Linked DNA regions of Homo sapiens. The protein of the gene in region 2 purifies or fractionates together with the protein of the main gene of each other region. This does not show direct contact. Each region holds a gene or a part of one and is shown on either strand. Other genes may lie near its edges. The genes, in order: AMBRA1, WSB2, CCDC9 and ACIN1.

Region 1 (7,021 bases), on a different chromosome or scaffold from region 2:
TGAGTGAGAAAGGTACTCCTAAATAATCTTTTTTTTTTTGAGATGGAGTCTTGCTCTGTCGCCCAGGCACTGGAGTGCAATGGCACTATCTCAGCTCTCTGCAACTTCTGCGTCCTGGGTTCAAGCAATTCTCCTGCTTCAGTCTGATGAGTAGCTGGGATTACAGGTGCCTGCCACCACACCCGGCTAATTTTTGTATTTTAGTAGAGACGGGGTTTCACCATGTTGGCCAGGCTGTCTCAAACTCCTGACCTCAAGCAATCCAATCTCCTTGGCTTCCCAAAGTTCGGGGATTACAGGCGTGAGCCACTGTGCTTGGCCTGATCCTTTCTTTAGCTACAAGGTTGAGCTATGGAGAATATGAGAGTATGAAATATTTTTGGAAGAAAAATTCTGGGAGGAAGGGTCTTTTCTGAGAAAGTGTCATTAAATAGGAAAAGTATAATTTCCCTTTTGAGCTAGAATTGTATTTGCAATTAGAAGCTTCTCGTTGCAGAAGTCGTTCTTTGACATTATTCTTTGTTCCTTAAGATTTCCATGAGGACAACTTACAAGGACCTGTATGGCCTCATTTTAGCTGCTTCAGTGTGTTGGAGCTGTTACTTGCTCCTTCATTTCCTGGGCCTGGTGTGACAGTGGCTACTGAGCGCCATGAAGGTTGTCCCAGAAAAGAATGCTGTCCGGATACTCTGGGGGCGAGAACGGGGTGCTCGGGCCATGGGAGCTCAGCGGCTTCTGCAGGAGCTGGTAGAAGATAAAACCCGGTGGATGAAATGGGAGGGCAAGGTAAGGAAAATGGCTATATTTCACATAGGATTTGTGCTGGTGATGGTAGAATGAGACCTTAGAATGGGTTAACAGCAGAGAGTTGGGATATATTTATCTTGTGTGGGAGAGTTGACATATCTGACTTAGGGAGTTGTTTGTAAATTTGAAAGAACTAATGTGCTAGAAATATCTTTTTCCTTTAGAGCTAGACAGTTTTCCTGAAGGTAATTTAGGTTTATCTCTCTCAATTTGTAGCTTGATCATTGTCTCCAGTTTTTAAGCCTACACTGTGAATGCTAATCTAGAATGGTTAATGTGCTTTTGAGATACGGTGAACCATGGTCTACAAATCATGTATTTTAACTTTTTTTTTTTTTTTGTCTCCCAGAGAGTAGAACTGCCGGATAGTCCACGCTCTACCTTCTTATTGGCCTTCAGCCCAGACAGGTACTCAGTATTTATCTATAACTTAAGATTTGTGATAACAGTGCTTTCTGTATATTTGGCCTGGCTTGATCTTCCAAGTCAGTCCCTAAAGTCTCTCTGAAGTACTGTATGAACAGCACTTTGGCCCCGTGTCGGAAAGGGAAAGAAAGTAGATGAGCAGTGCTAACCTGAAAAATCATGAGAACAAGCAAAGGAAACTGAGAGGATCAAAACTTGGAAAGTTTCTCAATAACAATCATTTGCCTGTGTGATACAGCTCACCAGTGGTATGATGGTTTTTCCAGTGGGAAAAAATATTTTCCGAATGTGGCATGTGTCATTTGGGGACAGTGTGGACAAGCCAAAAGCTTTTAAAGATCAGAATATTTCTGTTTGTAGATATACTGCCTAACATACAAAGCTTAGTTTCTTTCATGTTGGGATTGGCAGGTAGCATCAATATTCTATGTCGTCCAAAGTTGATAAGATTGGTTACCCTTCCACATGCTTCTGAATTCAGTTCTACTCTTTGATTTTCTAGGACTCTCTTAGCCTCCACCCATGTGAACCATAATATCTATATTACGGAGGTGAAGACTGGCAAGTGTGTTCATTCCCTGATTGGACACCGCCGTACTCCATGGTGTGTCACTTTTCATCCCACCATCTCAGGCCTTATTGCTTCTGGCTGCCTAGATGGGGAGGTTAGGATTTGGGATTTACACGTGAGTATTTCCTTAAGATACCCTTTTCTTTTGGTGTTCTAATTTTTTTTTTTTGAGACGGAGTCTCGCTCTGTTGCCCAGTGGTGTGATCTTGGCTCGCTGCAACCTCCGTCTCCCAGGTTCAAGTGATACTTCTGCTTCAGCCTCCCAAGTAGCTGGGATTACAGGCATGTGCCATCATGCCTGGCTCATTTTTGTGTTTTTAGTAGAGACGGGGATTCACTATGTTGGCCAGGCTGATCTTGAACTCCTGACCTCAAGTGGTCTGCCTGCCTCGGCCTCCCAAAGTGCTGGGATTACAGGCATGAGCCACCATGCCCGGCTTCTTTTGGTATTCTAAATGCAGAGACTTGTTTACCATTGGTTTTTTAATTCTGGAAGAGCCTAGCCAGATTCTTAGGACTACATCTGAATATATTGTTGTAGACATTGCCCACTTAATTAATAGGAAGTCTAATTCCCTGTCTTCCATTCCTTTTTTTTTTTTTTGCAATAGCTTAAGCATGCCCTGAGATTGTCTTCCATTCTTGCTAAGATGAACATCTACTTTTGCTTCCTTCAGCCCGTTGTGACATAGTACAGGAGGCTCTAAGATATGTTCAGGTTGGATTTCTGTTGTCTTAGGGCATCTTTGCCTAAGTACAGATATTCCTGTACTCCGATCATGATCATCAAAGCAAGATCCTCTTTGTCCTAGTAACTGGCTAGCGGGTTGTCTTGCACCATGTTGTGCACCGAGCTTGAGTTTTTCTCAGGCTTTGCATGGAACTGTGGGCTGGGCGCGGTGGCTCACGCCTGTATTCCTAGCACTTCAGGAGACCAAGACAGGAGGATTGCTTGAGTTCAGGAGTTTGAGACCAGCCTGGGCAGGATATTATACCAAAAATATTATACACAAAATTATATAAAATTAGCTGAGCATGGTGCCATGCGCCTGTGGTCCCAGCTACTTGGGAGGCTGAGGTGCGAGGATTGCTTGAGCCTAGGAGGCAGAGGTTGCAGTGTGCTGAGATTGTGCCACTGCACTCCAGCCTGGGTGACAGAATGAAACCCCCTGTCAAAAAAAAAAAAAAAAAAAAGAAATAGGAACTGTGTATATATGCTTAATGCTTGTAGATTGTGACTAATTTGAAGAACTGAACTGATTGTATAGTATTTATCTGATAAATTAGTGGCACTACCAGATCGCTGATCTTCTACATCTTTTTACAGAGGATGTATTTAAAGTAGTCCCTAGACATAGTCATTTTACCTTAAATGGACCTTTCTTGAAATTGACTTCCCAGTGTGCTGGTAGCTTGTAACCTGAGAATATCTGGAATTGGTTCATTCACAGGGTGGCAGTGAAAGCTGGTTCACAGATAGCAACAATGCCATTGCCTCCCTGGCTTTCCACCCTACGGCTCAGCTCCTGCTGATTGCCACTGCCAATGAGATCCACTTCTGGGACTGGAGTCGACGGGAACCCTTTGCTGTGGTGAAGACAGCTAGTGAGATGGAACGGGTCCGGTGAGTGCGCTGCCCCATCTGCATTGTCTGGCACAGGACTGACGTGATAGAGAACATTCTACTGGCTGTCACCTTGGAAGTCAGGTTGTTATCCCTGCTCAGGGCAAGTTGTCATCCTCATAGCTCCTCCTATTTTTTTTTTGAGACAGGGTGTCACTCTGTCACCCAGGGTGGAGTGCAGTGGCGCAGTCTTGTCTCACTGCGACCTCTGCCTCCTAGGTTCAAGCGATTCTCGTGCCTCAGCCTCCAGAGTAGCTGGGATTGCAGGCACCCACCACCATGCCCGGCTCATTTTTTTGTATTTTTAATAAAGATAGGGTTTCACCATGTTGTCCAGGATGGTCTTGAACTCCTGGCCTTAAGTGATCCGCCCACCTCAGCCTCCCAAAGTGCTGTGATTACAGGCATGAGCCACCATGCCCACCACCACCCCCCCCCCCCCGGCTTTTTTTTTTTTTTTAAGGAGACAGGGTCTTGCTCTGTTACCCAGGCTGGAGTACAGTTGTGCAGTCATGACCTCATGGGCCCAAGTTACTGCAGCCTTGACCTCATGGGCCCAAGCAATCCTCCCACCTCAGTCTTATGAGTATCTGGGACTACAGGTGTGTGCAGCCTCTCTCAGCTAATTTTTAAATTTTTTCGTAGAGATTTGGGGGGCGGGGCCTCACTGTGTTACCCAGGCTAGTCTCGAACTACTGGCCTTCAGTGATCCTCCTGCTTTAGCCTCCCAAAGTATTGGGATTATAGGTATGAGCCACTGCACCTGGCCGCCTCCTGCTTTCTAAGCAGCTGACTAATCAGCTGGGAGACATTCATTTTGTTCATTTCAGCTTTCCCTTATTGGCCTCATCTTCTGGTTTTTGGAGATCAGGGTCATTAGACTCTCTTTTAGTTTCAAAGCTAACTGTTTTGGATAGTACTTCTTTGGGAAAACCTGAAAGAAGTTTGGGTGGTATTTTAGATACCTTGGTGGGTTGTCTGTGTTTATCAAACTGGAAGATGGAGATGTAAGCACATAATTGACATTTATTTAGTCCTCAAGATCAAAACATATTGTCTGTATTAAAGTTGATGCATTGTGTTTCTTTGGTCCTCTTGGATTTCCAGTCGAATACAGGCCAATTTTCTGGTTTCAGCTATGTCACTTAATGCTGGGACTGTTCATTGCCACCAAGATTCATGCTTCTTGCCGGTGTAGCTGCCATATGAGGGAAGAACTGATTCTGTGGCAGAGTATGAGAGCATTTTATGCTTTACGGTTAGGATGAACTCTTGTATTTGAGCAAAGGTGTGCTTAAGGTAGCTGTTTCCTGGGATGGCAACTCTAGGTGTTTTTCATGTGAAATCGTTATTTTTGTGATACATATTCCTTTACTCTGGCAAGAAGTATTGAGTGTTACTATTTTAATCTCTTTGAAAGTTTTGGAAGTCTTGAATGAAGTGGATACCTGAGTGATACCAGTTATCAGTAATGATTGCTATAAATTCAAACACAAGTTTCCTCTTCTCAGTTAACATAATCTCTCTATGTGTGTCTTTGTCTCTTTCTTCTGTGATTTTAGTCTGGTGAGATTTGATCCACTTGGACACTACTTACTCACAGCAATTGTTAACCCCTCTAATCAACAGGTAAGTTAGTCCAGCAGTTCCAATTCCAGCTAAACTGTGAGTTCTTTTCTTAACTAGTATTCCAATTCTGATTATATTGGATTTTAATTCTCAATACCCAAGTCTTATCTTTCCAGTCAAGATTTAAAGCTAGCTTCAGACTGTATATTCAGGGTTATAGCCATAATCTTGACAGGAGAGTCGATTCTGAAACCCTCCAGTGATTGCCTCATTAGAAGTAACCCTTATCATCACTAGACAGTGTTGGATAGCTTGTCACTCATGTGCCTCTGGCTGGTTGACATTTTGCTTCCCCTCACTGCTTCCATGTCATGGGGAGATGTCTTTTGTAAGACAATTGGTTTGTCAGCTGCACTCATTCAGATATGCTGCTAATTGGGAGTGGAAAATTTAATACCATGTGATTATTTTGAATCTGAGGCCAGTTGTCAGTGCTTCAGGGGTAGAGAGTTGTTTCCTACCTATGAACATTGTTTTCCTTGGATGATTGTCAGTGGTTAGTTTTTCTTGATTTACTTGGAGGTTCTACCTAACTGCCTTGCTCTACCCCCTGCCCCATGCTGGTCCACGTTGCAGGGTGATGACGAACCAGAGATCCCCATAGATGGAACAGAATTATCCCACTACCGTCAGCGTGCCCTCCTGCAATCACAGCCAGTTCGCCGGACGCCTCTCCTCCACAATTTCCTGCACATGCTGTCCTCCCGCTCTTCTGGCATCCAGGTGGGAGAGCAAAGCACAGTGCAAGATTCTGCTACCCCCTCACCCCCACCGCCTCCCCCTCAGCCCTCCACGGAGCGCCCCAGGACTTCCGCTTACATCAGGCTCCGACAGCGGGTCAGTTACCCCACAGCTGAGTGCTGCCAGCACCTTGGGATCCTGTGCCTTTGCAGCCGCTGCTCTGGCACTCGAGTTCCTTCCCTCTTGCCACACCAGGACAGTGTCCCCCCTGCTTCTGCCAGAGCTACTACCCCTTCCTTTTCTTTTGTACAGACCGAGCCCTTCCATCCCCCGGAGCAGGCCTCGTCAACGCAGCAGGACCAGGGCCTCCTGAACCGGCCGTCTGCCTTCAGTACAGTCCAGAGCAGCACTGCCGGCAACACGCTCCGCAACCTCAGTCTGGGTCCTACCCGCCGCTCTTTGGGAGGGCCTCTGTCTAGCCACCCTTCTAGGTATCACCGAGAAATAGCTCCTGGGTTGACAGGATCTGAGTGGACCCGGACAGTACTCAGTCTGAACTCCCGCTCTGAGGCGGAATCCATGCCCCCGCCCAGAACCAGTGCCTCTTCGGTGAGTTTGCTGTCTGTGCTGAGACAGCAGGAAGGTGGCTCTCAGGCATCTGTGTACACTTCAGCCACAGAAGGGAGGGGTTTTCCGGCATCAGGGTTGGCAACTGAGTCAGATGGAGGGAATGGCTCCAGCCAAAACAACTCGGGCAGCATTCGCCATGAGCTTCAGTGTGACCTGAGACGCTTCTTTCTGGAGTATGACCGGCTTCAGGAGCTGGATCAGAGCCTGAGTGGGGAAGCTCCCCAGACCCAACAGGCCCAGGAAATGCTCAACAATAACATTGAATCTGAGAGGCCAGGCCCTTCCCACCAGCCCACCCCACACAGCAGTGAGAACAACTCCAACCTGTCCCGTGGCCACCTGAATCGCTGTCGTGCTTGCCACAATCTCCTGACCTTCAACAACGATACCCTGCGCTGGGAAAGAACCACACCTAACTACTCCTCTGGCGAGGCTAGTTCCTCTTGGCAGGTCCCCAGCTCCTTTGAGAGTGTGCCATCAAGTGGCAGCCAGTTGCCACCTCTCGAGCGGACTGAGGGCCAAACGCCCAGCTCCAGCAGGCTGGAGTTGAGCAGCTCTGCTAGTCCGCAGGAGGAGAGGACTGTGGGGGTGGCCTTTAACCAGGAGACAGGCCACTGGGAAAGAATTTACACCCAGTCCAGCAGATCTGGAAC
Region 2 (7,608 bases):
AAACATCTTTGTAAGATCCATTCATTGAAAAACATAATCCATTTATTGAAAAATATCTTTGTAAGATCACCTGCTAAATATGAAAATCTGACTTGAATTTGTACTCTTTAAAGTTGCGTATCTGCTCTAGTGGGCAGGACCTAGGGCTTAAAGGGGAACTTCCTTTCTCCATTTCTAAGAACTGGGACTCTAAAATGAGAAGCTGGTTGTCTGAAGTAACCCTGCAGGTGTGGTTGGGGAAGGTCTGTTTTCTTGGATGAAGGAACTAAACTAAGCATATCAGAGCACTGTCTTAACCAGTTTTATTTCCCTGGAGATAGAATTCTTTTAAAAAGAGTTAGGGAGCTGGTAATAGGAAGTGCCTTTCATTATAACTACATTTTGCAGAGCTTCATATTTATATACAAGCCTCCTAGGTGATACACTGTTAGCTTGCAGACTTTCCTATGCTTCATTTCTCCTGTTGCTTTCAAAGAAGGCAGGAGACACGTTTAATAACGGAGTATCTGGTGATAAGAATTGCTTGGGCAAACCAGCTCATCTGGACTCTTTCTCAGTCTTGGAAGTGGGAAGAGGAAAACTTGTTTCCTTCCTGCTTCTTAAGGATATTCTGAGGGTACACTGATCAATAACACTAAATTTGGAATGAAAATACCATGTGATGAGTTTAGCCTGCTGATGCTTCCAGTAGATCCTTGTATAGTTTCAAGATTTAAGTTTTCCGATTTCATATAAATTTCTTAAAGTCGAGGACCTTATAAGGGTGCAATGGATGTTTGCTAAATATGAAAAACTGACTTGAATTTGCACTCTTTAATGTTGCGTATCTGCTCTAGTGGGCAGGACCTAGGGCTTAAAGGGGAACTTCCTTTCTCCAATTCTAGGAACTGGGACTCTAAAATGAGAAGCTGGTTGTCTGAAGTAACCCTGCAGGTGTGGTTGGGGAAGGTCTGTTTTCTTGGATGAAGGGATTAAACTGAGCAAATCACTAGAAGTATGCCCTGTCCCCTGCTCAGAACACTGGGGAGCTCAAGAGTGGGCTGCAATGTGCACCCCTCAGGAATAGCTGTGAATTGCAGGTCTACTGGCTTTTTGCTTTTTGTCTTTTGCTGCAAGGTACCCCACGTACTTAACCATTCTCAACAGTGTAAATCAGTGTCATTTTAGAATGAGATACTCAGCTTGCTTCTAAAGTCACTGAATTACTGAGTGAGTCTCTCCTTTAGAGTCTTCGGCAACCAAATTCCAGAATTGAAGAGTCTACTACTCAGAGGCAACAAGATTAAAAAAAGAAAACACAAAAACTGTTGAGGTGAAAAAAAAAAAAAACCCTAGCTAGGAACACAGAGAATGTTTTGTAGGATCACTGGGATATTTTCCACAACTTCCTCTTCTCTAGCACACACATCTGTTGATAGGAAATATTTGAGGGTTTTTCCACTACCAAATGGGAGCTTCATGGTCCTGGTGTCAAACACTATAAACCTTTGACCAGCTGAGCTGTGACTGCTGTCACATATCTGAGTCCTGTGTGCACAGTAATATCCTGGGTCAGGTAAAATCCAGGTCTTCAAGTTTTAAGGATTTTTTGAAGAATTCGGGCTTCTTTAAGACGATCCATGCCCAAATCCACAAGCTTGTTGACAGTGGATTACAGTTTGTGTGGCAAAGTCCAAGTTGTTACACTGTGCTTTAAAAAAAATCTTATCTGCATGTATTGTTAACTTAGAGACCATGAGATCTATTTATCAGGACCAGGAAGATACACACTTCAGGTCCATTGCAACTGACTTTTTTCTTGTTTTTCTCAAACCCTGGTGGAGCCTGGGAAGGGGGCCTCCACAATTCTGTGGCTTTGATATTAGCCCCAATTCTCACAAGCACATACAAGCCCCATAATTGCCGCAGGAAAACACAAGATGGAAAATTGCAATAACCCATGCACTGAGACTTAGAAAATCATCCTTACTAGGCAAAATGTATTATGATGCAATAAGTGCCAACTGATATTTCTCACGTTGGGACTGGCCAGGAACTGCTGCAAAGAAAAATAAGCAGCTCCTTCTCCATTATTTACATTTTAAGATGTGGTGGGGGGAGGTTGGGAGAAATTAGTTCTGAGGTTATCATATGCCTTTTTTAAAAGATAATGGAATAAAGCTATTTTTAAGTAAGTGCTTTTGTGATCTTGATTGAGACCTGGTTAGTAAATTGAAAGACTTGGAAAAACGAACTTGCCAAAAAAAATTTTTTTTACTAGCTTTTTAAAAATTGGTAACAATATTCTTCTCACCTCAGCCCCGCCTTTTTTGTTTTTTTTTTTTTTTTTTCCTCCAGACGGAGCCTCCATCACCCAGGCTGGTGTGCAATGGCAAGATCTCAGCTCACTGCAACCTCCACCTCCTGGGTTCAAGTGATTCTCCTGCCTCAGTCTCCCGAGTAGCCGGGTTTACAGGTGCCCGCCACCACACCCAGCTAATTTTTGTATTTTTAGTAGAGATTGGGTTTGGCCATATCGGCCAGGCTGGTCTCGAACTCCTGACCTCAGGTGATCTGCCCGCCTTGGCCTCCCAAAGTGCTGGGATTACAGGCATGAGCCATCGCGCCCCGCGACCTTACCCTTTTATTCTTTTCCATGACGTGTACATAAAAACGAGGCCTGTAAGACTCCAGGAATCGAAGGAATTTGGGAGACAAAAAATGGAGACTCAGAAAATTAGAGAAGAGAAAAATGGGAGGGGGGAGCCTGGACAATAAAACGGGGGTCCTCAGGAGGCAGGAAATTAGCGATTAAATGGGAGCAGAGGTGGAGGAGGCCGACACTGGTGCCAGAGATAAAAGTGGAGTCCCAAAAAAAGGGGTGCGCTGGGCCGTTTTTAAAATTGGGAAACATAAAAAATACCCAGTGGAAAATGAAGAGAGAGAACGGGGCATGCTAAAGTTAACATGGGCGGCGAGAAAGGGACAGGTAGCCAGCGGAAAAGGGGGAGACTGAGAAACCGGCAGGTTCAAAGAAAAGAAAAAAAAAAACCGGCCAAGCGGGGTGAACAGGAGTGTAACCCAGGAGGCCAAACGGGACACAGGAAGGACGTACCCAGGGCTCATAAAACAGGGGCCTGGGTAAAAAAACCCGAAACATTAAAACGGAGAGACCATGGTGAAAAAGAACACGGGAACCTCAGTTACCGTAGAAAACATAGGTTGCGTTAGGAAGCAAAGAAATTTAAAATGGAACCACTGCGATCCGGAGCTCTGGGACCAGTGACCGGCAAATGGAGAGGGCACTTGGAGGGAAGCGAAGAAAGGCGGGGAGAAAGGAATGAGAGGCGGGAGAGTGACTTGAATGAAGCTGACACCAAGAACCGCGGGAAGAGCTTGGGCCCAAAGCAGGAAAGGGAAGCGCTCGAGTTGGGGGTAAGGGGAGGCATTTTGGGGACAATGAGCTGAGCTCAGTAAGAAATCCCCAAGCCACTGATACTACTGGGGACCGGACAACTAAGAAATGGGGTCTTTCAGGCATGAAAAGCCTCCATGATGACTCCTGCCCTGGCCCTGGAATGTTAAAAAGGGGGCGTCTGACCCAAGCGAGCCATTTCTTGAGGCTATGCGGGTAGACAGGGAGAGCAGGTTTCTCAGGGGGACGGGGACAGGCGAGGCTGTCGCCGTAGGTAGGTAAGGGGACAGTCTTCTTCCGAATCGCTCCTGCCCCGTTTTTTATCTCGTTCCCACCCCCACTCCGGTTTTCACCCTGCCCTCCTCTCCCCACCGCCCCGTGTTCTCCTCACTTCCCTCTCCCATTACCGGAGCCATTGAGTAGCCCCCCTTGTTTTACCCTAGCCTTGACCCTCGCCGCACCCCCCAATTCTTACGTCCTCCCCAGCACCCGGTTATTACACCTTCCTTCCACCCCCTCCCCATTTTCCCCTAAGCCCAGCTCTCCCCAGGTTTCTTCTCGGCCAGTATTCCCTCCAACCTATTTCTCCCGCCCCCATTTTTACCCGTTTCCCCCCTCATCGGCCTTCGCATGGCTCCATTTTCACCTGCCCCTCCCCTCGATTTCGCTTCAGCCCCTTTGGTTCCCCTTACCCCCACAGCCCTCGGTCTCCCTCTCTCCGTTCTCCCCGGATCGCCGCTTCCCCTGCTTGGTTTTTCTCTCAGCCCGGCTCTACCACTCTCCAACACCCCCTTTTCCCCTGAGCCCGGCTTCCCCTACTCCGGTTTCTATCGCTCCCCTTTTCCCGGTTTCCCTCAGCTCTGTTCACCTCCCTCCCTTCCCCGTTTTTATCCGGCGCTGGTTCCCCTCAGGACCCCGCACAACCCCTGGGTTTTATCCCGTTCGCGCCCCACCCCGTTTCCGCTCAGCTCCCCCCACCCCTGCCCCATTTTTATCTGGTTCGCGCGTCTTCCCCGCCCCCGTTTCCCCTGAGCAACCCCTCAGCTTTTATCCCGTCAGCGTACCGCCTCCCCGATTTTCCATCTTTTCCCTCAGCTGCCCCCCACCGTTTTTATCCCGTCCGCACCCCCCCTCCGTTTCCCCTGCGCCCCGCCCCCGCGCGTCTCCGCCCGCGCCCACCGCCATGTGACGGGAAGCAGCTGATGGCCTCTCCGGGCGGCGGCGGCGGCCTGGCCGGGGCGGGCGGCGCGGGGGCGGCATGAGGGCCCGCGGCCCGGGGGGCTGAGGCGCCCGCCGCCTGCCGCGGGGGCCGCTCGCGTCCTCCATGGAGGCCGGAGGTGAGTGGGGCCGGGCGCGCCCGTTCCCGCCCGGCGGGGCCCTGGCCCGTTCTCCCCGGGGAGGGGGGAGGCGACCCCGGGGCGGGCTGGGCGGGGTGGGGCGGGGGCTGGACGCGGCGGGGGCGTCCGGCCTGGGAGGTCCGCGCGGGGCCGGCGGGGGTGCGCGCCCGGCGACCAGCTTTGTTTCACTTTCGTTGTCAGTGGCCGCCACCCTGACTCCCGCCGGCGACAGGATCGGGAAGATCGGGCTTCTGCGGGAGGAGATCCCCCGACCGGGACAGAGGGGGCTCCCGGGTGGGACTCGGGGCGGGGGGCACCAAGCCCTAAAACGGAGATCCCCAAGGGGGTGGGTGCCCCTGGGTACCCAGGTGCCAGGGGACGCACTTGCATGTCTGGATGGGAGTCACCTCTGTCCCTCACAAGCTGTGTGATCGTGACAGTGGACAAGCCACTGAACCACCGCCACCCACGTCTCAGTTTTGATCTGCAAAATGGGATAATCCTAGTACCTTCCTCGGAGGGTGGCTGGGACCCGGTAAAAATGGGGTCTGGGGTCTGGGTTCCCTATTGAAACAATCTATTCCCAGCCTCTCCCACTGGAGATTAAGTCAGTGGAGGTGGGGCGGGACTGGAGACGCTGATCCCTGGTGACATGTATGATCAGGCAAATTTAGGATACACTGATGGGTGGGGACCTTGCCTCTATTCTTGTTAACTGCCATCCCCATCAGAAGACAGCGTGGAAGTCAGAGGATATTGGATATACCTCAAGCCAGCCCAGATGAACATAAAATCTCAGTGGGAAAGGTGTGTCTCTTATGCAAGGGGAAAAAAACCCCAAGACGCATGCACGCCTTGGCCCTCTCCCCTCCAACGACCTTCCCTCGGAACCCCACTTGGGATAGATTTAGAATTGATTCCGGGAGTCCCAGGTCTTGAAGGACCCGAGTTTAAATGTAATTTCCTTAGGAGAAATTTTCAGAGCAGGTTCAAGGCCTAGGGCTCAGAATTTGTTCCAGAACTTCATGGTAATCTTGCAGCCAAGTTCAAGCTTCATCCTGGTCTGGAGGGTTCTGATTGCTGATGGCTTGTTACTGTGGGTGGGAAGGTTGAAATCTGGGTATTCCCTGGGGTGGTGTTACTTTTTAATTTAGGAAATGACATTTCTTTGTTTGCTGAAGTCAGGCATTGAGTTAAAGGCAGCTCTCTCTCCTTCCCATCTAGATAAGGGCTTTCTTTTCAGTGAGTGTTACCCGTAGAATTCTTTTTAAAAGGGCCCCTACTGTTTGTGTAGATCCTATGTGAATCTTTTTATAGCTTCCGTTTGATTTCCATTGCCTCCTTACAGTTCAATCTGAAAGCAATCTGTAGCTAGCCTGCCTTTTTAACAGAAATCTGTTTCCAGTTCTGGGGTTTTCCTAAAGATTGACAACTTCGTTTTGAGGGTGTGGGCAGGGTTGTTGAGAGCTGCCAAGTTACTGTACAAAAAAGGCCAGAGTTTTAACTTATTTTCAAATGGAATAAAGCCCATTGTAAAGGAAATACAATGGGCAACAGTTGAAATCTTCAGAGCAATGGTTAGACTTCACTTATTCATTCAGCAAATATTTGTTGAACGTCTACTATGTGCCAGGCACCCTCTAGGCCAGCCCCGACCAACAGAAGTCTAATGTGAGCCACGTATGTAATTTAAAATGTTCAAGTAGCCACATTAAAAAAAAGAAAAAAGAACTAGGTGACAATTTAAAAACTCTTTCAATACAACATGTCTAAAATATTCCTGCTACATGTAATCAAATAAATTGTAATGTAATGTTTTAGATTTTTTTTTGTGCTAAGTGTTCAAAACGTGTTGTGTATTTTTTACTTACAGCCCATCTGAATTCTGACTTGCCACATTTCAAGTGGTTGGTAACCACATGTGATTTCCCTATTAGACAGTGTAGCCCAATAGCAGTGAACTGGCAAGTTTGGGTGGGTTCAGAAAGAGACAGACAATAAATACGTAAAAATGACAGGCAATCAAGAAAATATCAACCAAATGCGCCGGGGTGGCTCACGTCTGTAATCTCAGCACTTTGGGAGGCTGAGGCGGGCAGATCACTTGAGGCCAGGAGTTCGAGACCAGCCTCACCAACATAATGAAACTCCGTCTCTACTAAAAATACAAAATTAACCAGGCGTGGTGGTGCATACCTGTAATCCCAGCTACTCAGGAGGCTGAGGCAGGAGAACCGCTTGAACTGGAGAGGTGGAGGTTGCAGTGAACCAAGATCTCGCCATTGCACTCCAGCCTGGGCAACAAGAGTGAAACTCCATCTCAAAAAAAAAAAAAGAAGAAGAAAATATCTAAGTGATGGTTATAAAGAAAATCAAATGGTTAAAGGAAAGTGAATGGTGCCAGGCGCAGTGGCCCAGCAGTTTGGGAGGCCAACTTGGGTAGATCACTTGAGCTCAGGAGTTTGAGACCAGTCTAGGCAGCATGGCAAAACCCCATCTCTGCAAAAAATACCGAACTATAGGCGCGTGCATGGTAGAATGTGCCTGTAGTCCCAGCTACTGGGGAGGCTGAGATGGGAGGATCATCTGAGCCTGGGGAGGTCGAGGTTGCAGTGAGCCGTGATGGTGCTACTGCATTCCAGCCTGGGCAACAGAGCAAGACCCTGTCTCAAAAAAAATAAAAAATAAAAAAGGAAAGTGTATGGTCGCTTTAGATAGTGAGGCCAGGATGGTCTCTGAGAAGGTGACATGAGGACCAATCCCTGAATGATAAGATGGAGCAACTGAGGAAAGCTTTTGAGGCCGGTGGAATATCTAATGTACATGTCCTGATACAGGAAAAATCACCTAGCTTCCTGCTGGCTGGGGTCATAGCTT
Region 3 (7,021 bases), on a different chromosome or scaffold from region 2:
CTGATGGGCAGTTCAGGGCAGGGGGAGGAAGAGGGAGGATTTAGGACAAGGCTGCTGAGTAGGTGATGTGGCTCTCCCTGAGATGGGATCTGGGAGGTGGCATGGGTTTCATTTATTCATTCTTCATGTATTCATTCATTTTAAAAAAGGCATATTGAATTTCCCTTGTGGGCCAGGCAGCGTTCTAGACTTGGGATACACGTCAGTGACATACATCACTGAAAGCAGACAGACATTCCTGTCCCCAGGCAGATTCTGCCGTAGTGGAGGAAGCAGACAGTGAGCGAGACGCATATGGTGCTGGGTGCAAATGGGATGAGAACAGAGAGGGTGGCAGGGGAGCTGGTTTCCACAGGGTGCTCAGGGAAGGCCTCACGAGAAGGCAGCATTGGAGCAGAGACCTACAGGAGGTGAGGGGTTGGAGGGTCTCTGGGAAAAGTGTTCCTGGCAGAGGGATCCGCTGGCGCAAAGCCCCTGAGGCAGGTTTCAGCCTGGTATGTTGTGGGAATAGCAAGGAAGCCGGAGTGATCGTGGGGAGAGGGTGAGAGATGAGGTCGGGGAGGTACCAAGGCCAGACCCCACGGGTCCCACAGGCTGTGGGGAAGGCTGTTACTCAGAGGGGCACCACAGGAACGTTCTGAGTGGGGCTGCAACGTGCTGAGGTTTGAGGGATATGAGCGGCCTTCTTGTTCAGAGTCCAGGAGAGAGGCCTGGGCTGGGGCCAGACTTAGGAGGAGTTCAGGGGTCTGGGAGTCCGTCTGGCAGACAGGGCACCTGATGCTTCCCTACCCCGGCTGTCTGCTCCTAGGAGATTGAGGAAGACCGTAAGAAAGCTGAACTTGAGGGAGTCGCAGTCACAGCTCCCCGAAAGGGCCGCTCAGTGGAGAAGGAGAACGTGGCAGTGGAGTCGGTGAGCTCGTCACTGGGGTGTGGGACCCTGAGGATGGGGAGGGGCAGAGGGTTGAGGCCTGGGACCCAGGAGCCCCCAGCTGTCCTGCACCAGTGGGTGGCCTCCATCCTGGCCGCATGCCTCCCTGCCCCAGTGACTGTATTTTCCCCATCTCCCCTCTTCCAGGAGAAGAACCTGGGTCCTTCCCGGAGGTCTCCTGGGACCCCTCGGCCCCCAGGGGCCAGCAAGGGGGGCCGGACTCCTCCACAGCAGGGAGGCCGGGCCGGCATGGGCCGAGCATCGCGCAGCTGGGAGGGCAGCCCCGGGGAGCAGCCTCGAGGAGGAGGAGCTGGGGGCCGTGGCCGGAGGGGCCGGGGCCGAGGTTCACCTCACCTCTCTGGAGCTGGAGACACCTCAATCTCTGACCGTAAATCCAAGGTAGGAGCTAGGCAGCGCCTGGAGCCCTGGCTGAGGTTCTCTGTTGTCTGTTTCTGTTTTTTCCTCCTCTCAGATGCACATTTGTCCTGTGTGTCCATCTTTCAGTATCTCTCTCTGAGCCTTTGCATCTGGCTCTGTTTCTCTCTTCCTCCACCTCCTTCTCCTCCTCCTGCTCCCCCTCTTCTAGTTCCCCCTGTTCCTTCCCTCTCACGCCTAGAGCTCGTGTGTTTTTCCTTGTCTCTTTCTCTCCTACTCCTGCTCCCCGTCTTCTTGTTCCTCCTCGCCTTCCTTCCCTCCCCTCTCCTGCTTAGTGCTGCGTGTCCCTCCCTGTCCCTCTCTGTCTCCCTTTTTCTCGCTCTCTGGTGCATGCTTGCCCACTCATCCTCCGTCCCCATCTCTCCTCCCTTTCTGGCACTGTGTGTCTGTCTGGTGGGCTCTCTCTATCTGGTGTGCTTGTGAGCACAGGCTCTGTGTGGCATTCTGTTTCTGTGTGTTTCTCTTGGTCCCCGGCTTTGGTTATGGGGAGCAGTGATTTTACTGTAACTACCTCACTCACCCCTGACGTGCAGGTCAGCAGGGTGGGAGTCTGTCTAGCTGAGTGGCTTACAGCCCACCGTGGACATGGGTTGAATCTGGTTCTGTGAGCTACCTGGCCTTGGGCAGCTCACTTCCCCTGTGAGCTTCTGGTTCTAGCACTTACACGGGAATAAGAAAATTCAAAAATTAGCTGGACGTGGTGGTGGGCACCTGTAATCCCAGCTACTTGGGAGGCTGAGGCAGGAGGATCACTTAAACCTGGGAGGTGGAGGTCACAGTGAGCCGAGATCATGCCACTGCACTCCAGCCTGGGCGACAGAATGAGACTCTGTATCAAAAAAAAAAAAAAAAAAAAAAAATGCTGGGCGTGGTGGCTCACGAGGCCTGTAATCCCAGCACTTTGGGAGGCTGAGGTGGGCGGATCACCTGAAGTCAGGAGTTCGAGACCAGCCTGGCCAACATGGCGAAACCCCATCTCTACTAAAAGTACAAAAATTAGCCGGGTGTGGTGGCACACGCCTGTAATCCCAGCTACTCGGGAGGCTGAGGCAGAAGAATTGCTTGAACCTGGGAGGTGGAGGTTGCAGTGAGCCGAGATTGCGCCATTGTACTCCAGCCTGGACAACAAGAGTGAAACTCCGTCTCAAAAAAAAAAAAATAATTAGACTTAAATTGGGCATGCCAAGCTGCTGTCACACAAAGACTCCAAAAATTTCATGACCTAAGTGGAGTAGGAGTTTATTTCTCCCTTGTATGCTGAGCCCTGCAGGGAGGTGGGTGGTCCAGGGGGTGAGGCCCTGCTCCATGATGTCACTCAGGGACCCAGGTTCCTGCTTTTTTTTTTTTTTTTTTTTTCTTGAGACAGAGTCTCACTTTGTTGCCCAGGCTAGAGTGCAGTGGCATGATCTTGGCTCACTGCAACCTCCGCCTCCTGGGTTCAAGCAATTCTTGTGCTTCAGCCTCCCAAGTAGCTGGGATTACAGGTGTGCACCACCACACCCGGCTAGTTTTTGTGTTTTCAGTAGAGATGGGGTTTCGCCATGTTGGCCAGGCTGGCCTTGAACTCCTGACCTCAGGTGATCCTACCGCCTCGGCCTCCCAAAATGCTGCGATGACATGTGTGAGCTGCTGCGCCCGGCCTGGTTCCTGTTTTTGTTGCTTGGTGGCCCCTAGGTCCTGGTCATTGTCTGTGGTAACAGCTGGGTTGCCGACATGGTTGCGGTTCAGTTCACAGGAAGGGGAAAGATAAGTCTGCTTTATCACTTTTGGTCATGTCCTGTTGGTGAGAACTTAGACACCTGGTCATACCTAACCTCAAAGGAGACTGGGAAATGAAAACGTTGTCTACAGCTGGCTGGCTATTTGCCCATCTAAAATTTTGTCACTAGCTTGGTTACTAGTAACAAGTAGTTACTAGCTACTTGGAATGCTGGGTGCTGTGGTATGGGCTTGTGGTCCTAGCTACTTGGGAAGCTAAGGTGGGAGGATCGCTTGAGCCCAGGAGTTTGAGACCAGGCTGGGCAACAGAGTGAGACCCCATCTCTATAAAAATTTTAAAAATTAACTGGACGTGGTGGTGTGCCCCTGTGGTCCCAGCTACTTACTTGGGAGGCTGAGCCAGCAGGATCACTTGGGAGGCTGAGCCTGGGAGGTCAAGGATGCAGTGAGCTGTGAACACACACCACTACATTCCAGCCTGGGCAACAGAGTAAGACCCTGTCTCAAAAAAAAAAAAAATCAATAAATTTTTGCTACCATGGAAGGAAGAAGGGGAGAACGGATTGTGGTTGGTGGGGGTAGGTCACCTAACCATCTGCCAAGTAATTACTGTTATTACCACCACTATGATTGCGGCAACCTTGGTGTGCCAGGGCCCCCAGCACCCTGACACTGAACTCGCAGGTTCAGTGGTTTGCTAGAAAGACTCATGGCTTAGATTTATCACAGTGAAAGAGATCACAAAGCAAAATCAGCAGGGGGCGGGGTACCTGGGCTGAGGTCTGGAGGAAACCCGGCATGAACTTCCAAGAGTCCTTTCCCTGTGGAGTCCCAGGGGATGCGCTGAATTCCTCCAGCACTGAATTGTGACAACATGTGGCTTACCAGGGATGCCCACGAGAGATTCAGCACTCCAGGTTTTTAATTGGGGGCTGGTTTATTTTTATTTATTGTATTTATTTAGTTTTTAAAATTTCTTTTTGTTTTTGAGATGGAGTTTCACTCTTGTTGCCCAGGCTGGAGTGCAGTGGTATGATTTCGGCTCACTGCAACCTCCGCCTTTTGGTTTCAAGCAATTCTCCTGTCTCAGCCTCCCAAGTAGCTGGGATTACAGGTGCCCACCACCATGCCCGGCTAACTTTTGTATTTTTAGTAGAGACGGGGTTTCACCATGTTGGCCAGGCTGGTCTCGAACTCCTGACCTCGTGATCCACCTGCCTCGGCCTTCCAAAGTGCTGGGAATACAGGCGTGAGCCACTGTGCCCGACCCGTTATTTTTATTTTTATTTTATTTTATTTTTTGAGACAGAGTCCTACTCTGTTGCCCAGGCTGGAGTGCAGTGGCACAATCTCGGCTCACTGCAACGTCCACCTCCTGGGTTCAAGTGATTCTCTTGCCTCAGCCTCCCGAGCAGCTGGGATTACAGGCGCCCACCACCATGCTTGGCTAATTTTTTTCGTATTTTTAGTGAGATGGGGTTTCCCCATGTTAGCCAGCCTGGTCTCAAACTCCTGACCTCAGGTGATCCACCCACTTCGGCCTCCCAAAGTGCTGGGATTACAGGCGTGAGCCACCGCGCCCGGCCACTTTTAAAATTTTTTGTAGAGACAGGGTCTTGCTATGTTGCCTAGTCTGGCCTTGAACTCCTGGGCTGAAGCAATCCTCCTGCCTTGGCCTCCCAAAGTGCTTGGATTAGAGGTGTGAGCCACCATGTCAGCCTGGAGGCTAGTTTTGAACGCAGGCCCCTTCTGTCTAGTATGTACTGAAATTCCAGACCCCCCAGTAGGAAGGCGAATGCAGCGTACAGCGTGTTGTTCGCATAGTCCAAGCCTGGCCAGCCAGCCTCATCAGTTCACTGCTGACCTGGAGCACGCTGAGAGCAAATGGTCAGATGCCAGCAGGCCAGTCCGAGGAGAGGAGCCTCAGGCCTGCTGGGCAGCCCGTCTCCTGCACCGGCAGCTTAATAGTTCTCCCTGAAGCTGGGTGTCCCTATCTTTATCCCCCCAGGAGTGGGAGGAGCGGCGCAGGCAGAACATTGAGAAGATGAATGAGGAGATGGAGAAGATCGCCGAGTATGAGCGCAACCAGCGGGTCAGTGGTGCGGGTGTCCCCGAGGCAGGGCCGAGCTGCCTGGGCTGCGGGGAGCCCGCGCCAACCCCCTGCTCTGCTGCCTGCAGGAAGGGGTTCTTGAACCCAACCCAGTGCGGAACTTCCTGGACGACCCCCGGCGACGCAGCGGGCCCCTGGAGGAGTCTGAGCGGGACCGCCGGGAGGAGAGCCGCCGGCACGGCCGCAACTGGGGGGGCCCCGACTTCGAGCGGGTGCGCTGTGGCCTTGAGCACGAGCGGCAGGTGGGTGTTGGCAGTGAGGACACCTCGGGGCTCTCAGGGCTTTGATGGGGACTGCATAGCAGGAACCAGACAGATCAGGGCCATGGGGCCTCTCCTTTTTTGTGCCACAGCACAGGACTTTTTTTTTTTGAGACGGATTCTCGCTCTGTCACCCATTCTGGAGTGCAGTGGCACCATCTCGGCTCACTGCAGCCTTTGCCTCCTGGGCTCAAGCAATTCTGCCTCAGCCTCCCGAGTAGCTGGGATTACAGGCAAGTGCCACCACACCTGGCTAATTTTTTCGTATTTTGTAGAGACGGGGTTTCACCATGTTGGCCAGGCTAGTCTTGAACTCCTGACCTCAAGTGATCCACCTGCCTCGGCCTCCCAAAATGCTGGGATTATAGGTGTGAGCCACTGTGCTTGCCCAGGATTTTAATTATTAAGGATTTATGGTATGTTTTGTTTCCTGCCAAGGTAAATCTCCCCTCATTGTTAATGACACCAGCATTTATGAGGCACCTACCACATGGCAGGTGCTGTGTGAGGGGTGGGGACCTGGCCTAGAAGAGGAGGCAGGGGCAGTGTCCTTGCACTTGGTGGTCCACCCCTAAATTGTCCGTCTGTTGGTTCTTCTGTCAGTACCACGTGGCTCTAGTTGTTACAGCTTTGTGGTATGTTTGAGGGTTTTCTTGTTACTAACAGTATTGTTTACTGGGCACTTACTATGTGCCAGGTACTGTTTTAGGTGCTGAGGATAAGAGGTTTTTTTTTTTTTTTGAGATGGAGTCTTGCTCCATCGCCCAGGCTGGAGTGCAGTGGCGTGATCTTGGCTCACTGCAAGCTCCGACTCCCGGGTTCACACCATTCTCCTGCCTCAGCCTCCCCAGTAGCTGGGACTAAGGTGCCCACCACCATGCCCAGCTAATTTTTTGTACTTTTAGTAGAGATGGGGTTTCACCATGTTAGCCAGGATGGTCTCTATCTCCTGACCTCGTGATCTGCCCGCCTCAGCCTCCCAAAGTGCTGAGATTACAGGCGTGAGCCACCGCTCCTGGCTTTTTTTTTTTTTTTTTTTTTTTTTTTTTGAGACAGAGTCTTGCCCTGTTGCCTAGGCTGGAGTGCAGTGGCGCGATCTCGGCTCACTGCAAGCTCTGCCTCCTGGGTTCATGCCAGTCTCCTGCCTCAGCCTCCCGAAAAGCTGGGACTACAGGCACCCGCTACCACGCCCAGCTAATTTTTTGTATTTTTAGTAGAGACAGGGTTTCACCATATTAGCCAGGATGGTCTCCATCTCCTGACCTCATGATCCGCCTACCTTGGCCTCCCAAAGTGCTGGGATTACAGGCGTGAGCCACCGCGCCCGGCGGGAGAAGAGTTTGGAGGCAGAGCCCCTGCCTTGATGAGGTTTCTTCTGGTGGGAGCTGAGTAAATGAAAATATAGTGAGATGTGAGGTCCTACCAAGTGTTGTGGAGAAAAATCCAGCAGCTGAGGGGACAGAGGGATGCTACTTAGGAGATCTGAGAGGGCCTCTGTGAGGAGGTGCCACCTGAGCCTAGTTGATTGTGATCTCTGCCTTGTCATCGCTTCCCTGTGTGATCCTGAGC
Region 4 (7,021 bases), on a different chromosome or scaffold from region 2:
AAAAAAAATCATGTTATCAGAAAGCAAAGAAGGGTGAGAGCTTCACATTTCCATGTATGCCTTTTCCCCGCCGCCCTAGCTCCCTTCGTCTTCCTTCTCTTCCTCATGGCTTTCATTCCGTCTTTCGTTTTGGTTTGTTTTCAGTCATTCTGCCTTCCCCCTTTGTCCTGCCTGCCCAGTTTCTAATTGGCCCCACATGCCCTTTCTGTATGGGAAATAGATATTTTTTTTGTATAAGCCTTTTCTCTAGATGTAAGCAGCTAAATCTCGTGTTTCTCTGGGGGCCTGTTTAGCTGGGGGCACAGTTCCGATTTTCCCCTCCCCCTAACCCCCCTAGTGCATCCCTTCTTGACTGCTCTAGGGAGGTTCTTCTGACCTCTGAGTGTCAGTCAGTCAGCCTGTTGGGAATGCTGACTTTTCTGGTGGTGGTTATCGGCCTGGGAGGCTTGGTTTCCCCTCTCCTGAGCCTTAGGCCTCTGATCATCTTGATTTGATTTTTTTTGCTTGGTGTTTGGGTGGTAGAGGGGGTGAGATTTGAGATAGAAGTTGGGGACGAAGACAGAAATCAAAGGTGGAAAGATAGTTTATCTGAAGTGAATCTCTGGGATTCTTTGCCTGAAATGGGAGCTAACTTGTGAGATTAAGAGTGGGAGAGTGGGTTTGGTGTTCTTGGGGGAAGCTGCCTGTGTGGGGGAGGGTGTGTCCTGACTAGGAGGCCTGCTCTCTTTATCTCTTGGAAGTTGGAATGAGGGAGTGGGAGAAACTGGGTGAAAGCCGAATGTAGGAACAGTTTCTACACCTCTGAGCAGGTAAAAGTGGCCCTAATCTCTGAGCTCTCATACTCAATTCAGCAGTTTTAATTTTTCCTTTTGAATGAGAGAGGGTCCTTGAAGCTTGAACCTTCACCAGGCCTGCTTCTTCCCTGCAGCTCCCACCCCCCGCCCCGCACCCCCCACCCCCCACCATTTTCTCCATGCTGGTGTCTCCAGATCCTGAGGATCAGCAGGCCTTTACTTATTAAGCAGTTGATTAAACACAGGTCAGGCTTTTTTGCCAAAGCCTTGGCCATTCTTTCTTGTCTTTTTAAGGGAATCGGGCTTCCCTTCGTTTCTCGTGCAATTTTGCCATATAAAGGTGCCTTTGGCCAGGGAGACTGAGGCCACAGGGTTGTGGGCAAATCACAGTCACTTTTGTGGGACTATTTTCAGAGGAGGGTTTTTCTCCTTTCATATAGGAGTACTCTGGTGAGTTATTACCTGAGAATAGTTGGAGTCCTAACCCCACAAATGACAACTTTTAACTCATCTGGGCAATAGGTGGATGTGGTTGCTGTGATCCACGCTCTTTCCCCAAGGAAAATCTATTTCCCACTTTTCCCATTGGGACAAGGTCTCTAACCTTGATCAGAAAAGCAGCCCTCCTAATCCCACCCAAGTGATGAGGCAGGAGGGTTTCCTGACCCAGTAACTAACATCTTGCTCTCTCTTCCCCTTGGTTCTTTTCTGCCCGCCCCCCCACCACCACTCCCCCCTCCTGTCAGTGAGGAGAAGGAGGAAGTGACCATGGACACAAGTGAAAACAGACCTGAAAATGATGTTCCAGAACCTCCCATGCCTATTGCAGACCAAGTCAGCAATGATGACCGCCCGGAGGGCAGTGTTGAAGATGAGGAGAAGAAAGAGGTAAACATCCAAGCCACCTATTGGGGCGGGTGGGCAGGAATGGACCTAGGGGAAAGAGTAGAGCACTCTAGTGATCCCTCTTACACGGTGGGTTAACTTAAAGGAGGGATGAGGCAGGGACTTGGATCAGAATAGGGCCAAGGGAGAATTCGCTGGTTTAGCAAGGGAGACCCCTTGTGACGGGGACAGGGCTCATTCATTTTCCTTTCCTTGTTGGGGAAGTAGTGCCCAGACTCTAGACGTTTGTAACTAACGGGAAAGTCTGATAATGGCCCTTTATCTAAGATTTATGTTCAGCTTTTCCTGCTGTCTTCCCAAGCTTCTCCTGGTGGTAACTCCTTTAGCTTTCCCTCCTTTTTAAAAGCCTGATGGAGCCCAACGCCATCTAGTGGACATTGGTGGTTCTCACCAGACCAGCCATGCTGAGAAATTTTTGTTCCTCCTCTGCCCTCCAGTGGTCTGACTGCAGAGATGTAGCTACTTAGAAGCCAGCACTTGTGATCCGGAAGGCCCATTCTCAGTTACCTGTGACCCCTCTACCTCCTTTTTTGGCATATGTTATCTTGTGTCCTGCACCCACTTCAGGGGGCTTCCCCCATCAGAGCCAGCGAAGTCTTCTTGGCTCTTAAAGTAATTGAGAAAGAATGAGCTGGGTTTAGGAGAGGGGTAACAAGGTGGGAGGGACTGTTGTGTGTGTAGCCTTTTTCTGGTGTGTGTTGCGGGGGTGGGGGCCGGTGAAAGTGATTTGATGTGCAGAATATTATTTATTACAAGGTCCTTCTTCCCCGTAAAACTTTGTCCAAGTACCTCATGTACGGTAATCCGCCCGTAAAATATAACCCTGCCCAACTGGCCAATCGCTGATGCCGCCTCTTCCTCTGGACCCACCCGCTGCTACTGAGCTGCCCAATCAGAGCCAAGTCTGCTATCCAGGTGTCTTGGCCAGAGGGGGGCATGTATATGGGCTCCTGTGATGGGCCCCCTTTTGCCTCCCTGTCTTGCTTACATCAGGGGGCCAAGAAGAACACTGTTCTGGAGAGACTTGTATTGAGCAAGCAAAAAACATTTGGAAAGGGGTGGACTTGCATCATCTCCCTACTTGGGACACCCCAAGAAGAGCTTGTGCCAGTGCTGGGGCGCCTGCCCACATGCCCTTGCCCTTTTGAGGACTGTGGGTTGCCTTGTTTGCTACAGACTGTTGGGATCCCCATCTAGGGCACCAAGACCTCCTAAAGTTTGTGATCGCAGTGCCATGCTGTAAAACACTGAGTGGGACCCTCTACTTAAGCTGTGACGACTAGGAACCGTGCAGAGGAGTCTAGGGTCTGAGCCCCTGGGGATTTAATGCTGATGACAGCCCAGCCCATGTGTCACCACTTGCTCATCAGATGGACTTTCCTTTGGTCCCTGTTGTCCATGGTGAAGGGCAGCATGTTGGTTGCTCCAACTTCTCCTCCATCCCTGGAGGCAGGGACTCATTTCATCCACCTGACTGGAACCACTGTCTCAGCTGGAGTCCCTGAGGAGATGCCAGCCACAACTCTCCGAAGAGAAGTATTCTGACCTTGCTGCTGAATGTCTGCCAGGTCCTGGGGTATTCACCTACCCCCAGGCTACCTTCATCAGAGGCTCCATGATCCCACTCGGTGAGAGGACCCCCTCCCCAGTTACAGGCAGAGGAGAAAGGGACTCTGGAGTCATCACCTGGATTCCAAGTATTGGGTGGTGTTATTGCTGCAGCTTGCCACTGGTGGACATAGGGTCCTGCCTGCCTCTCACGATAAAAGGCAAGGATCATTCCTGCTACTCACAGGCCATCTCATCAGGGACTGCAAGATGATGTCCCTTCAGGGCCAGGACTGATGTCTCTGCCCCTTTCCCCCCTCTATCCCTCGCTGAGCCTGGCCACCGCCAGTGAACTGTCTTGACATCATGGAAACTGGGCAGCGTCCCCCCACACGTTTCCCTCCCGCCCCCCCTGCGCCCCTGGGAGGACTCTGGCAGTGCCGTGCTGACTACCACGCCGTGCGCCCACCTTTTTTGCCAACCCAACCCCCCACCAATTGCACAGCGCCTAGCAGGGAGGGCTCATTCTGATTGGACCGGCGGTTGACTAGATACAGTACACAGTGAGGTGCGATTGGCTGAACTGAAGATCCCAGGTGTGAGATGGTACCTGGAACATTTGTCATATTCCTAGTTTATTTTCTTCTTTATTTTCTTCTTCTTTTTTTAATATTTTATTTTATTTTTTTCTATATCTTTATTTTTTCTGATTTCTTTTATTTATTTATTTGGTTCATGTTTTTCCTGTTTTAATTAAGACCTTTTTTTTTGTTTTGTTTTTCTCACTAACTTACCCATCGAGAGCGGCCCAGCTAGGGGTCAGGCTGGCCCTTAACAGAGACCAAGGAGACTTGGTTAGACGACACAAACGGGGCTGCGGGTGGGGGTGGATGGGAAAGGGATTTCATCACGAGGTTTCTGCCCTACCCTTTAGAAGAGTGGTAGAGTGGTCTTAGTTTTTCCAGAAATAAGCACCTACACTTGAAAATACTCTATTCCCTTTTTCTCTCTCACTTTTCTCCCCCGCCCCCCATAGTCTTTCGTCATTCACCCACTGAGTGTTTGGGGTAGAGACTTGTCCCAAAGATGTCTTCTGGTCTTTGGCAGAGCCCCTAAGGCTTGAGCCCTGGTTGGAGAGGAAACAGTAAGACTCTGCTGGAGCTCCCTGCGGTGGCTGGAAAGTCTAAGGATCTCCTTGGGGACAATCTGCCCTTCATAAAAACCTTCCTTTATCAAAGACACCTTTGAGTTCTTTTTGCTAGCACTTGGCTCAAGAGCCTCATCTCCAGTGGGTCTGGTGCTGCCCTTTTCCACAGTGTGGTGGGGGTCTGGGCAGTCTTGACATGACAGTCTGCTGTCCAAGCATCTCAAAGCCATTGTCAGTGGGCATCAGTCTGGCCATTGAAGAAAGGAGGGTTACCTTGTTGAAGTTGCCATCCAAAGTTGGTTTTCCTTGTTTCCTCGAGTTAGCAAGGAAGGACCTGGGAGGACTAGATGACCCAGTTTGGGGCACAGTTTGTTTGGCTTGGTGTCCTCTCGACTCAGACGGTGAAAGAGGGGGTATGACCAACATCTTTAGGGGGCTGAGAGGCTACTGAACTCCTCTTCCAGCTTATTTCTGGTTAAGCTAATACACAGGTGTGATACGGAGTAGATGACTTTTCCCTGCTCTGATGTTTAGTTTTATTTTTTTCTCTAACTTGCATTGATTCTGCTTCGTTTTTGCCGTTTGCCGCTTCTGTTTTGGTCTCTGTCTGTCTCTGTGTCTCTCTCTGTCTCTCTCTCTCACTCTATCTGTGTCTTTGGAGGCTAAGCTAAGACTGCCCCATCTAACCTCCTTCCCCCCTCTCTGTGGGGTGTCTCTCTTTCTCTTTTTTTTCCCCTTTTTCTTCTTCATACAGAGCTCGCTGCCCAAATCATTCAAGAGGAAGATCTCCGTTGTCTGTAAGTCCAGCCCCAAATCCCTGATAAAAGTCAGGAATACCATAAAAACCAGCATTCATTGAGAACCAGAATTTCATTCTCAATGGCATTCTTGGGTCACTCCCTCCTGCCCCACCCCTTGTGCCTAGCAAATCTGAATCCTTTCCTATGTAGGGTTTCATTTTGGAATTCAAAACTTGAGACAATCCCCATCATATTGCTCCAGTCACATTTTAATGAGATACAGTGTGAGGTGTCTGAGACCATGTCCCATTTAGCCTTAGAGGCATTTATTCTTTCAGATACCTGAATACTCAACAAGGAATGAGTTTCAGGGACTCCTATGTGATGCTTAGCAGTTTATGAATTATTCTGGGTATTTTGTTGTTGTTTTTTTGAGACGGAGTCTCCCTCTGTAGTACCCTAGGCTGGAGTGCAGTGGTGCGATTTTGGCTCACTGCAACCTCCGCCTCCGGGTCCCAGTTCAAGCAATCCTCCTCCGCCTCCTGAGTAGCTGGGATTAGAGGCATGCGCCACCATGCCCAGCTAATTTTTGTATTTTTAGTAGAGATGGGGTTTCCCCATGTTGGACAGGCTGGTCTTGAACTCCTGACCTTGTGATCCGCCTGCCTTGGCCTCCCAAAGTGTTGGGATTACAGGCGTGAGCCATCGTGCCTGACCTTGTTTATGCGTTATTCTAAGAGAGCACCCAAGGAAATGAAAGTGCCCCACACCTCAAACAGTAACAATTTTAACATTTTCCCCAATGAGGAACTCTAGATTACAAAAGTATAATAGATGTTTATAACTTAAATATCAATCTGTAGTGTGAAAATTAAAGGAAGACCAGATCCCATCATGATCTTAGTTCTGCCTAGATGTTAGTATCACATAGTGTTCTTGTTTCTTCTGCATTTACATGTCCTTCTCAGTTTTTCTTCCACACTACTTGATATTACTGTCTACCATTAAAAGTTTAAACGGCTCATCAAACTAGCTACCCCTCCCTTACTGCTTTTAGATCAGTGTTCAGTCTGAAGCCATGGTTTCCCCAGTTCCCAAATATGATTTCTTTTCTTTTTTTTTTTTTGAGACGGAGTCTTGCTCTGTCACCAGGCTGGAGTGCAGTCAGTGGCACCATCTTGGCTCACTGCAGCCTCCGCCTCCCGGGTTCAAGCAATTCTGCTTCAGCACCCTGAGTAGCTGGGATTACAGGCATGCACCACAACGCCTGGCTAATTTTTGTATTTTTAGTAGAGATGGGGTTTCACCATGTTGGTCAGGCTAGTCTCAAACTCCTGACCTCGTGATCCACCCGCCTTGGCCTCCCAAAGTGCTGGGATTACAGGTGTGAGCCACCACACTCAGCCTCCAAATATGATTTCTTTAAGTTAACCTTTTACCAAAACTCCAGCCAGAGGTAACCTGTAGGTATTACGGTTTGAACTAGCAGAGGTCCTGAGACCATCTAACTGTTGGGTCTATTTCTTGGGGACAGCAGCTACCAAGGGGGTGCCAGCTGGAAACAGTGACACAGAGGGGGGCCAGCCTGGTCGGAAACGACGCTGGGGAGCCAGCACAGCCACCACACAGAAGAAACCTTCCATCAGTATCACCACTGAATCACTAAAGGTGAGGTGGGAGGAGCCAGGGAAGGGAGGATGAGACCTGTTAAGGTGGGAGTAGACATGGGCCCAGTGTAACGGGGTGGGGGGTATCTGTGTCCCAGAGCCTCATCCCCGACATCAAACCCCTGGCGGGGCAGGAGGCTGTTGTGGATCTTCATGCTGATGACTCTCGCATCTCTGAGGATGAGACAGAGCGTAATGGCGATGATGGGACCCATGACA

The links.
Region 1: the proteins of WSB2 (region 2) and AMBRA1 purify together in Homo sapiens (co-immunoprecipitation; 3 studies listed by BioGRID and IntAct, with this or other methods). This does not show direct contact.
Region 3: the proteins of WSB2 (region 2) and CCDC9 purify together in Homo sapiens (affinity purification with mass spectrometry; 2 studies listed by BioGRID and IntAct, with this or other methods). This does not show direct contact.
Region 4: the proteins of WSB2 (region 2) and ACIN1 purify together in Homo sapiens (affinity purification with mass spectrometry; 2 studies listed by BioGRID and IntAct, with this or other methods). This does not show direct contact.

The regions. Positions count from the first base shown.
Region 1 is NC_000011.10:46,542,011-46,549,031, reverse strand, and holds part of AMBRA1 (activating molecule in BECN1-regulated autophagy protein 1), read left to right. Parts: intron 1-531; 5' UTR 532-651; coding exon 652-786; intron 787-1,156; coding exon 1,157-1,215; intron 1,216-1,735; coding exon 1,736-1,919; intron 1,920-3,255; coding exon 3,256-3,428; intron 3,429-4,990; coding exon 4,991-5,057; intron 5,058-5,633; coding exon 5,634-7,021. UniProt on the Homo sapiens protein: Substrate-recognition component of a DCX (DDB1-CUL4-X-box) E3 ubiquitin-protein ligase complex involved in cell cycle control and autophagy.
Region 2 is NC_000012.12:118,058,159-118,065,766, reverse strand, and holds the start of WSB2 (WD repeat and SOCS box-containing protein 2), read left to right. Parts: upstream 1-4,587; 5' UTR 4,588-4,718; coding exon 4,719-4,731; intron 4,732-7,608. UniProt on the Homo sapiens protein: May be a substrate-recognition component of a SCF-like ECS (Elongin-Cullin-SOCS-box protein) E3 ubiquitin ligase complex which mediates the ubiquitination and subsequent proteasomal degradation of target proteins.
Region 3 is NC_000019.10:47,259,513-47,266,533, forward strand, and holds part of CCDC9 (coiled-coil domain-containing protein 9), read left to right. Parts: intron 1-808; coding exon 809-910; intron 911-1,075; coding exon 1,076-1,327; intron 1,328-5,090; coding exon 5,091-5,174; intron 5,175-5,260; coding exon 5,261-5,434; intron 5,435-7,021. UniProt on the Homo sapiens protein: Probable component of the exon junction complex (EJC), a multiprotein complex that associates immediately upstream of the exon-exon junction on mRNAs and serves as a positional landmark for the intron exon structure of genes and directs post-transcriptional processes in the cytoplasm such as mRNA export, nonsense-mediated mRNA decay (NMD) or translation.
Region 4 is NC_000014.9:23,064,137-23,071,157, reverse strand, and holds part of ACIN1 (apoptotic chromatin condensation inducer in the nucleus), read left to right. Parts: exon of another isoform or gene 1-10; coding exon of another isoform or gene 11-33; intron 34-1,540; coding exon 1,541-1,682; coding exon of another isoform or gene 1,683-1,778; exon of another isoform or gene 1,779-2,456; coding exon of another isoform or gene 2,457-2,546; exon of another isoform or gene 2,547-2,693; coding exon of another isoform or gene 2,694-2,897; exon of another isoform or gene 2,898-3,798; intron 3,799-5,149; coding exon 5,150-5,192; intron 5,193-6,669; coding exon 6,670-6,803; intron 6,804-6,900; coding exon 6,901-7,021.